Linked DNA regions of Homo sapiens: region 2 is linked to region 1. Evidence: fine-mapped expression QTL. A gene starts in region 1. The other region holds a variant in brackets. All regions are shown on one strand. Distances are from middle to middle.

Region 1 (5,365 bases):
CGCCCGGCCAATACTGAAATTTTTTTGTTCTTGACACTTTGACTTTCCTGGGCATAGTGACTGGGCTTTATTCCAATCCTACTTGCATCAAAATAAAATCTGTGATCAAAATTATCATCTATACTTAGAGAAGAAAATAAAGCTTCAGAGGATCTGGAATTTATAGCTGTAAGAGCTGTGCAGCTGGGCGCGGTGGCTCACGTCTATAATCCTGAGGATCACCTGAGGTTGGGAGTTTGAGACCAGCCTGACCAACATAGAGAAACCCCGTCTCTACTAAAAGTACAAAATTAGCCGGGTGTGGTGGCACATGCCTATAATCCCAGCTACTTGGGAGGCTGAGGCAGGAGAATCGCTTGAAGCCAGGAGGTGGAGGTTGCAGTGAGCTGAGATCACACCACTGTACTACAGCCTGGGCGACAGAGTGAGACTGTGTCTCAATAAGTAAATAATTAATTAAAAATTAAAAAATAAAATAGTGATTTTACAAGCACTTCACACAACTGACATAACAAAGGCTGTGGCTATCTCAACTCACATATCGATCCATCAAGGCCTTCTCTTGATTTTGAAATAACCTTAACCTACTCAAGAACAAATTTAGAAATCCTTTCTCTCTCTGAAATCTTTGTCAGTGGCTCCAGCATTCTAATTACCAAGACCGGAACCTTGCACTTGCCTGGACCCATGGCACAGACCAGACAGGTGGGGGCACCATTCATTGAGGAAGGAAGGAGGACAGGCAGGTGCGGGAGTGGGGAGTGGAAGAAAGATTGGACAGGGACAGTCTAAGGAGCCAACGGGGAGTCCAGGGGCCACACCCAGGACTCTGCAGACCGTCAGATGTGGAGGTAAGAGAGCAGGGAGGGGGGATGGCCAGGCGCAGCTATGGAGGGACAAGGGCAGAGATGATACTGGCGGGGGGCATAGAGGAAAAACCCTGGAAAATAACTAGTGGCTAGAGCTTTGGGGAGAGAAGGGGAAAGACAGATGGGACAGAAAAGAACTGAGAGAGGCAGGAAGAGACCCTCCCCACCCCACTCCTGGACAGCCACAGACTGGCGCTAGAATCAGGGACAGGGAGGTAAGGAGGAATTTTTTTTTTTTTTTTTTTTTTTTTGAGACAGAGTTTCGCTCTTGTTGCCCAGGCTGGAGTTCAATGGTGAAATCTCAGCTCACCGCAACCTCCGCCTCCCAGGTTCAAGCGATTCTCCTGCCTCAGACTCCCTAGTAGCTGGGATTACAGGCATGTGCCACCACACCCGGCTAATTTTGTATTTTTAGTAGAGACGGGGTTTCTCCATGCGGGTCAGGCTGGTCTCGAACTCCAGACCTAAGGTGATCCGCCCACCTCGGCCTCCCAAAGTGCTGGTATTACAGGCATGAGCCACCGCGCCCGGCCATAAGGAGGATATTTTTATGCCGTTACAGAAAAAGATGAAAGCTCAGAAATGGAAGGGAGGTCGGAGAACCTGCAAAGGCATGCATGTGGGGTGAGGACTGCTCAGAGCTCAGAGAGGGGTGCTGGAAGGGACCTGAGAGGAAGCTTTGGTCCAACCACTCATTTCACAGATAGGGAAACAGGGGCCTGCGGACGGGTTGGTTTGCTCCTTGATTCCCAGGGCGCGCGGTCCTCCCCGAACCCAGCCTCGCTTCCCGCGCAGCGCCCAGCAGTCCCTGGCGCGGCGGGCCGGCCCTGCCCTCGCGAGCTTGCGGTCCGGTTGTGGAGGCCACCGGCTCCCTGGAAACATTTGGCTCCCGGCCGGGAGGCATGCCGCGCTCTCGGACCTGGGCTGGAGTAGGTGCCCTTGGCGGCCCTGGCTCGAGCAGTAATGGACTAGCCCCAGGGGGCGTTGGAAATGCTGCGACCCGCCCCCACATTTTTGCCCGAACGGAGACCCTCCGGGCTTTCACGGTCCGGCCTTCTACAGCGGCGGGGGAGCCGTGGCCTCTTGCAGGGCGCTCCGCGCGGTTCCCGACTACCCGGAGCCGAGGTGCGGGCTGAATCCTGCTGAGCTCCCCATGCTACCACCCCCGCAACCCCACTCTCCCGGGGCGGGTCTAAGAGCTCTTCGGGGAAATTCAAAGCACTACAGGGACCAACGTTTGCAGATGCTCTCCCTGCGCCGCGACCACCCTGTGCTTGGCCCAGTTCTCCCGGAGGCGTCCAGAGACTGGGCTCGTGCCGGGGGACGGAAGAGGGTGCGCCCCGGCGGATCCCTTCTTGGAGCCTGGACGTGAGCTGGCCGGTCCGGGGCTTGCAGACCTCCGGGAGGAGCTGCGGGGCTGAGCGGCGACCAGGAGGCCAGGCCGGGGCAGAGGACCGCCGAGGGCCACCGCGGGAGGCGCAGTCAGCTGCGTACAGGCTTGCGCCGCCGCGGGCCAAGACTCCAAATTGGGAAAGGGGTGGCCGCAGCTCTGCGCATGTGCAGGAGGCGCCGGAGTTTCACTTTGTAACTTTTAAGTGGTCGGAACACGCCCCGCGCTGCTGGGTCCCGCCAGACACGCCGCCGCCGCAGGTACAGGGGACAGGGGGCGTGAGGAGGGGCAATGCACCCTCCGCCTTTCCCGGGACGTGCGCGCCAGGTGTCCGGTTCCGGAACGGCTCCCAGCCTACGCAGACCCCAGAGCCCCCGACCCCAAGCAGGGGGTGACGACGCGGGATTGGGTGGGAGGAGAGGGTCCGGGCAGCGCCTCCATTCCAGCCCTGCGCTCCTTGGGAATTCCTGGCGGCTTTTCAGGACTTTCCTCTCCGGCTTTTCGCTTTCAGGGCTGGTATCTCCTTCTTCCCCACCCCTCTCTTTGGGATTTGTCGGCGGAGTCCGACCTCCCACCTAACTAGGAGTGCAGCTATGGGCTCCTCGGACCCTATACGAGGCCGGGCTGGGAAAGGGCCAAGCGTCCGACTCTCCTGACGCCAGGAAGGCAGAGGCCACCCCTCGGGCTGTTCCTGGGTGACCACTTCCTGCAGCCTTGGCGGAGTCCTGAGGAGGGAGGCTGGGGACTCGGGGACTGGGGGGAAGGGCGGGGGCGGAAAGGGTGAGGCGAGCTCTGCTAAGAAACCAAATCCGCAAAGGTTCCAGCACCTGATAAGACTAGCTACCTGAGGCCCTGGAGGGGCCTTGGTCATTCAGCCCCAGGCAGGTGGTGTCCTCTTCAAGGGCAGGGGTGGACAGCGTGGCGGACCCACTGACCCTCCCTTGACACCTCTCAGGTCATCCTCAAGTCTGCTGTGCCTTCAAGGGGGATATGAACGGAAGCCGAGGCTCCTTTTCCCTTCACACGCCCCTCTCCTTTGTTTAGTGTGGGGGCAAAGGTCTCTCCTAGCTGTTCGTTGGGCTCTAACAGAGAAGACGTCAGGTGGGATCCTGCCCTTGTGTTTCCCATTAGCTGGAGGGGCGACTTAAAATAAAGGCAGACAGCTTCTAATTGCTTGCTAGGGCCGGGTCCTGGGCTAAGTGCTTTACAGGTGTTGTTTGGGATCTGTGCCTCCCAACAGCTCCGTGAGAGAAAGTCATCACTCGCATTTCCTGGCGAAGGAAGCCAAGGCACAGAGTGGTTAGGCTGCTTGTCTGAACTGCGTGGTGCTGAGACCCTAACTCCAGAGCCTGCTCACATAATCCCTGAGCCACACTGCCTCTGGTTTCAGCCAGGGGCTGTGTCATTTCCTTTGTGCTCCAGGGTAGGAGGTAAACAGTTGTCCAGGTTACTGGGTCCTGTTTGGTGTTGCCATAAGGAGAAGTTTGTACTTTACTTTGCAACCTTATTCTGCATCTGAAAGACCAGAGTTAGCTCCTGAGGCAGAAGGCCTGGAGCTGCTTGTAGTTTCGCTATTGTCATCACAGGATTGAAAGATTTGGTGATGATAAAATTACCCTGAATTTGTACGGGCCTTCTTGCAAGAACGAACAATATCCATATACTTCCTGCAACATTCTGCTGGTATTTCTAGAGCTTGTCAAGTTGACCACCAGGCCAGTCCTTGCTGCCAATGGAGACTGGCAGTGGATTAGCATAGGTAGTTTACTTTGGCAAATTTAGACCAGCTGTTGGATTTAGCCCTCTCCCACTGGCCACAATCAGACGCTTGCCTGCACATGGGTTGAACTTTGGGTTGGGAGCGTGAAGTCACCTGCTGCCCACTCTGGCTCTTGGGCCTCAGCAGTAATTCTTGGCTTTCCTACCCTCGGCATATTGAGTAGGAATAAGGGGATGAATGGAGAATTTCTGGAAGGCACAGGTAAGTGCTAGGCATTCACATACATCTAGGATGACTGAATATTGCCAGGGGTTCTCAGCCAGGCAGTGCCACTTCAACCACAGTGCCTAGCTGCTGGTTTGGCCTCCTCTATACAGCTGCCAGCTGGGTGCTCCCCTCCCCCTGCCTTCTCCTCAGCCTGGCAGCACTGTCCCATGGTGTCTGTGTTCCCAGCTGCCTGCTCAGAGCGTGCCTGTTTGTGAAAATGCAGAGGAGCTGTCCCATGGAGAGCCAGAGGGACGGAGCTGTTTCAGGGGGATCTGGACTTTATGTGTCTAATGGGCAGGGACAGGCTGGGACTGAGCTGAAAGGTCTGAGAGAGATTGTGGGTCCCCAGAGCTCTACCCTAACCTGGGTGCTCATCGGAGAGGGCAGACAGGACTGGCCACCTGACCTTACCTCCGTCTCAGGCTGATAGTATTTGCTAGCCACCTCCCTGAGTTCATATCAAACTTTGTCAAACCACCCTGGGAAGCCTATTTGGCAAGAGACAAGTAACTTAGAGGCATGACTGGGGCTGGAGGGAGGGGGAAGAGGAGCCGCAGGTGTTTCCCTCCGCAGAGGCCTCTCTCCTCTGCAGCACTGGCGAGGGTATGCCACTCCCAGCACCACCACAGCACCCTCCCCTTTCCAGGGACAATGCTCTCTCTGTGAGCATTTTATGGGGATGTTTTTTCTTTCCACTTCACATTTCAAGCCTTCCTTGTTCATGCTGCTGTGTTCCCTTTTCCTGATTCTAGCTCTTGGGGAACCCTGGGGAGCCTCCCCAGTAGCATTGGCCCTTGGGGCCCAGGTGAAGTCCTTTGCTTGGGGCCCTACCGTGAGCCCACAACCTCCAGGGTTTCTGTGGGAGAGGGCTGCTCCCCTAGACCCAGCAGGTCCCTGAGCCATTGGCAAAGAGGAGAGAGGCTGGGGCCACAGGTGGTGCTGGCCGAGGAAGGAGGAGTAGGGTCGCACAGAGGAGCACTGATGGATGGAGAACCAGTTCTGGGAGTTTGGGGAGAGATCAAGGCAGGAGGGAGCCCACTGGGCAGAACCTAAAGGTCCATATGGGCAGCATGCATACACAGGTGTGTGCTGGAGGGTTTCCATCCAGACCCCTACACT
Region 2 (5,365 bases), 25 kb before region 1:
TTGGTAAAGTCCTTCATATGATGGAGTGAAGAGTGAGTGTGTGCTGGGTGTGTGTGTGACTGGACAACAGGTGAGTCTGAACAATGAAGATGCTGGACTTGGCACAGTGGAAGGCAGCTGAGGCAGCAAGAGGTTAATTTGTTTTGTTTTGTTTTGTTTTGTTTTGTTTTGTTTTGTTTTGTTTGAGAAAGTCTTGCTCTGTTGCCCAGGCTGGAGTGTAGTGGTGTGATCTCAGCTCACTGCAACCTCTGCTTCCTGGGTTCAAGCGATTCTCCTGCCTCAGCCTCCTGAGTAGCTGGGACCACAGGTGTGTGCTACCACGCCTGGCTAATTTTTGTATTTTTAGTAGAAATGGGGTTTCACCATGTTAGCCAGGCTGGTCTCGAACTCCTGACCTCAGATGATCCGCCTGCCTCGGCTTCCCAAAGTGGTGGGATTACAGGCATAAGCCACCGTGCCCAGCCTAAGAGGTTTTTAAGTAGGGAGGGATCAGCCCTAATTTTTGCTTAAGAAAGAAAACTCCAGAAATGTTGGAAAACAGTGCCTTGAGTCTTGCAGCCATTTGGGTATAAAAGATGAGGGAAGCCAGTTGAAGAGGGTAATCCACAAGGCTTAAAGAGCCTTGGCTTCCCCCAGTGTATCCCCCTAATATCAATTGCTTGTTTAAAATTCAATTTGTTTAATGCACAGATAAGCTAAAACCTCCACCGTCTACAGGGTTCCTGTTGTTTGCTCAGTGCAGAGCACAATGGCTATTGTTTAGCAGGTATTTAATGAGGATTGTTGAGCCATGAGATGAGGGCAGGTGAGAGAGAAGCAGGTGTGGAAGCCAGGCCAAGGCTTCTGCTTGGTGACACCATTAACTGACCTGGAAAATCCTGGAAGGGGATAGGTTTGAGAGGAATAATAAAAATAAAAGCTGCGTTCATGGAGTGCCAGATACAGGTCAAAGCTGGAGCTGGACTTCCCCAACCTTCCCCAGTCCCCACAAACAACCCTATCCAGTGCGTGTTTCTATCTGACGCCCGTTTTCACAAATGAGAAAAATGAGGCTCATTGGGGTTGCCCAGGGCCGAGATGAGATGAGCAGCATGGCTGGAGCCTGCGCTGAACCCCATTGCCATCGGGAGTTCCTCTTTAAGGGGAGGTGGGCCCCCCATTTTCAGACCGTAGGGAAAGAGGCAGGGCCTCAGAAGAATCTGGAGGCACAGATGTGGGTTTGCAACCTGGCACTGTGACTGTGGACTTGGAGCTGAGTCCACATCAGTGTAGGCAGAGTGGCACATCACATTCCTGGGCTGCTACAGCAAAACTGTAATGACCAGGCCTGGGTCGCTTAAGCAACAGAAATGTGTTTGTCAACCTTGGCACGGTGGTGGCTCATGCCTATAATCCCAGCTACTCAGGAGGCTGAGGTAGGAGAATTGTTTGAGGCCAGGAGTTCTAGACAAGCCTGGGCAACATGGTGAGACCCCTGTCTCTACCAAAGAAAGCCAGGTATGGTGGCTTATGCCTGTAATCCCAGTGCTTTGGGAGGGAGGCCAAGGTGGGAGGATTGTTTGAGGACAGGAGTTTGAGACCAGCCAGGGCAATACAGCAAGACCCCATCTCTACAAAAAATAAAAGAAAAAGAAATTTATTTTCTCACAGTTCTGGAGGCTAGAAGTTCAAGACCAGGGACACCAGTCATACTGGATTAGAGTCCATCCTAGTGACCTCATCTAACTTAATTTTCTCTTTAAAGGCCCTATGTCCAAATAGACACATTCAGAGGTACTGAGGGTTAGAGTTTAAGCATATGAATTTTGGGGGTCCACAATTCAGCCCATGTCAAGCAGCCTGGAGATCATGAAGAGTCAAGGGATGAGGGAGAAGAAGGAGACAGAGGGCCTGGGGAAGCAGGGGGAGGATTTCAGCACAAGGGTGGAGTGGAGCCTCCAGCTGGCCTGGGTGAGAGGGGCAGGGTGAGGAGGGCCACGTTCCTGAACCCAGACCCCTGGATAGGAGGATGCTCAGGAGAAGAATGAGGCTGCATGGCAAATGCACCCGTCAGGCAGACCTACTTCAGACGAAGGTCAGTGTGGCTGTGGAGGCCCCGCTGGTCATCCCCAGCCAGGGCTGTGGTGTCTTCATCATGGAGAATACAGGCCGCTCCCCAGAGCTGTGGTGTGCAGGGCTCAGGCCGCACTGACCCCTTCCCTGCTGGGCTGAGCAGCTGGAAATCCAGGCTGCAGGGGAGCCATTTCCTCAGGGAGCCCTCCCACTCCTCACACAGAGTCTGCTTCAGGCCCAGGCCACACCTGGAACAAAGGCGGTCACGACCACCCCTGAACCCCTGGCCACAGGACCCAGAGCCCCAGTTCAACCCCCACTGTGAACCACTGTGAGCACTCCTCATCTTGCCCACCTCTGAAGGGGCCAGCTTTGTTCTTTTCCTTCTCCTTGCCGCCTGTCTGGAATCGGCCTGTGGCGGCTCCCATCTGGTGGCCAAAGGACCTTGGGCTGTAAGATAGGAAAAGGCTGAACTCTGTTGTTGGACACATTCTGGGGGCTTCCAGGTACCAAGCAGGAGGATCAAACCTTCCCAGGGACCAGCATCTTTCATTAACAAAATCCAAAACCATGTCACAGGACCCTCAGGAGCCTACTCCGTGGGCATGGGGCAGCCACAGAGCCAGCCTTGGCCTCGGTGCTGCCCTCAGTCAGCTCGTGGTCCGGGAAGGGATCATACACACTGCCACAGTCACAGCCTCACACTTACACATGGACACACCCACACATGCTCCCACACGCATGTGCACACACACACACGCACACACACACACCATAGGATGCTTCTGTTTTATTTGACACCAAACTAACACATCTTGGAAACTTCTTATGGAAACACCAACAGTAAACATGGAAAGTGGAAATAAAACACACACCCGAGATGATTCCTAATTAGCGGAAACAGCCCTAGTCTAGATCCAGAGACCCTGGAGGGACACGAACGTGGTGCAGGTCAAATTCCCCGTTGTCCAGCGAGGGTCATGGGCTGCCCAAGGCCACACAGCTCACTGCCCTGTGCCATGTCCAATCCCCTTGCAGCCTCCCTCAGCTCATGCTCAAGTCACACAGGCCTCCCCAGGCCTGCCCTGTCAATGCTGACCCACAAACAGGCTCACATAATGCTCCCTCCCAGGGGCACAGCAGCCTTGGCTTTGATCTGAGGTGGGGCTTTCCTGGCCTGAAAGTTGATGTGGCCAGCCTTCAACCTGTCCCCCATATCAC[C/T]GTCTGCTTTTGGAGACCCAGGGCAGGAAGCTGAAGCCTTATGTGGGAAAATGAGGGCTGGTCCCACGGCAGCCCTGGGGACCAGCTCTCTCCTTCGCTTTATGTATTATTTCATTTTTAATTACAGAACCAAGGTAGCAGAGCCTCTCAGGCTGAGCCAGAAAATAATCAGCTTTTTAATTTGATTTTTGTTCTCCCAAAGGAGAACAAGGGGCTCCAGGGGCACCATGAGGCCTGGACCTTGGAGATATGGTTAGATCCTCTAACCTATAGATGCTTGACTCCAGGCTGGCTCACCATCTACAGTGGGGTGACCTCCGCAGGCCCCAGTTTCTCTCTCTTTAAAATGAGCGGTTGGACCAAAGCTTCCTCTCAGGTCCCTTCCAGCACCAAGCCTCTCTGATCTCTGAGCAGTCCTCACCCCACATGCGTGGCTTTGCAAATTTTCCGACCTCTCTTCCATTTCTGAGCTTTCATCTTTTTCTGTAACGGCATAAAAATATCCTCCTTACCTCCCTGTCCCTGATTCTAGCGCCAGTCTGTGGCTGTCCAGGGGTGGGGTGGGGAGGGTCTCTTCCTGCCTCTCTCAGTTCTTTTCTGTCCCCTCTGGCTTTCCCCTTCTCTCCCCAAACCTCTAGCCACTAGTTATTTCCCAGAGTTTTTCCTCTGTGCTCCCCTCAGTATCATCTCTGCTCTTGTACCTCTGTAGCTGTGCCTGGCCATCTACTCTCCCTGCTCTCTTACCTCCTGCCAAAGACCCCACATCTGACCTTCTGCAGAGTCCTGGATGTGGCCCCTGGACTTCCCATCAGTTCTTCAGACTGTCCCTGTCCAATCTTCTTTCCACTCCCCACTCCCGCACCTGCCTGTCCTCCCTTCCCTGCCTCAATGAATGGTGCCCCCTCCACCCTGCCTGATCTATGCCATGGGTCCAGGCAAGTGCAAGGTCTGGCCCTGGGACCAGAAGGATGGGCCTTGACTCAGGGCGAGGAAGGACCCTCTTCCTAGCTTCCCCCAAATAGCTTGATCCACCTCCCTTCTCAGTTACACTGTGCAGCTTTCTTGCTCTGAAAGGTTGGAGACATTTACTGTTTTTGAAATTGTAGGATCTCTGTTCCTCAGACCCAAGGTGCAGAATGTCTTGGTTATGAGTCGGTGACAAAGCCCTGCCAAATCCAGGTCTCCAGACTCCACCCCAGGGGTCTCCCTGGTCTGACACTGCAAGCTGTGCTCCTCCCCAACCTCCCAACATCTGGACTCGCTGGGAGCTCCCTGGAGCTGGAAGCATGGGCTGGTTTCAGCAAGGACCTGCTGTCACTGGGCTGAGGAGGACAGGCCACTGGTGCTGCCCCCTCACAGGAAGGTCCATGAACAATGCACTAGGTGCCTTCCTGTCAGAAGATGCTCTGGGAATTCCTGGGTGGCCAGAGCCCTCCACCCTGGGTCTAGGGAAACCAACCCTTAAAAGCTAGCCAGGCGCGGTGGCTCACGCCTGTAATCCTAGCACTTTACAGGGCTGAGGCGGGTGGATCACTTGAGGCCAGGAGTTCAAGACCAGCTTGGCCAACATGGTGAAACCCCGTCTCTACTAAAAATACAAAAATTAGCTGGGCATGGTGGTGGGCGCTTGTAGTCCCAGGTACTCGGGAGGCTGAGGCAGGAGAATCCCTTGAACACAGGAGGCGGATGTTGCAGTGAGCCCAGATTGCACCACTGCACTCCAGCCTGGGCAACAGAGCAAGACTCCATCTCTAAATAAATGAATGAATAAATAAATAAATAAATAAATAATAGCTTATTTCCAGAGAAGGAGATGGAGTGGAGCCCACTTCTTATTAAGACACAGCCGGCAGATGCTGGTCAGCCCAAGAGGGGAGAACTAACTGGTGTTCTGTGTGGACTCTGAATCCTGTTCCTTGCCAGAGCTGAGCCTTGGATGGCACAGAAACTTCCCAGTCCACACCAAGGATTGCTGACTGAGAAACAATCCGGCCTGCAGGCATGGGCCTGGGGCTCAGAGGGCTCTGGACAGCTGACTTCTGGTTGGGAAACTGATTACCCTTCTCAGTCCTGGGAGACCTTCCTTGGCAGA

Evidence for each region.
Region 2: its variant is fine-mapped to the expression of TMEM63A in whole blood (INTERVAL, PIP 0.95).

Annotation. Positions count from the first base shown.
Region 1 is chr1:225,879,458-225,884,822 of GRCh38, reverse strand. TMEM63A (transmembrane protein 63A) reads left to right here and starts at 2,443. Exons shown (of 25, transcript NM_014698.3): 1 at 2,443-2,519. RefSeq lists enhancers at 1,525-1,574, 1,635-1,684, 3,887-4,837 and silencers at 2,195-2,354, 2,915-3,034.
Region 2 is chr1:225,904,371-225,909,735 of GRCh38, reverse strand. No RefSeq gene overlaps it. Among named protein-coding and RNA genes, the nearest start is that of MIR6741, 15 kb to the left of the region's middle. RefSeq lists an enhancer at 2,527-3,300. The variant C/T (reference allele first, on the strand shown) is at 3,274.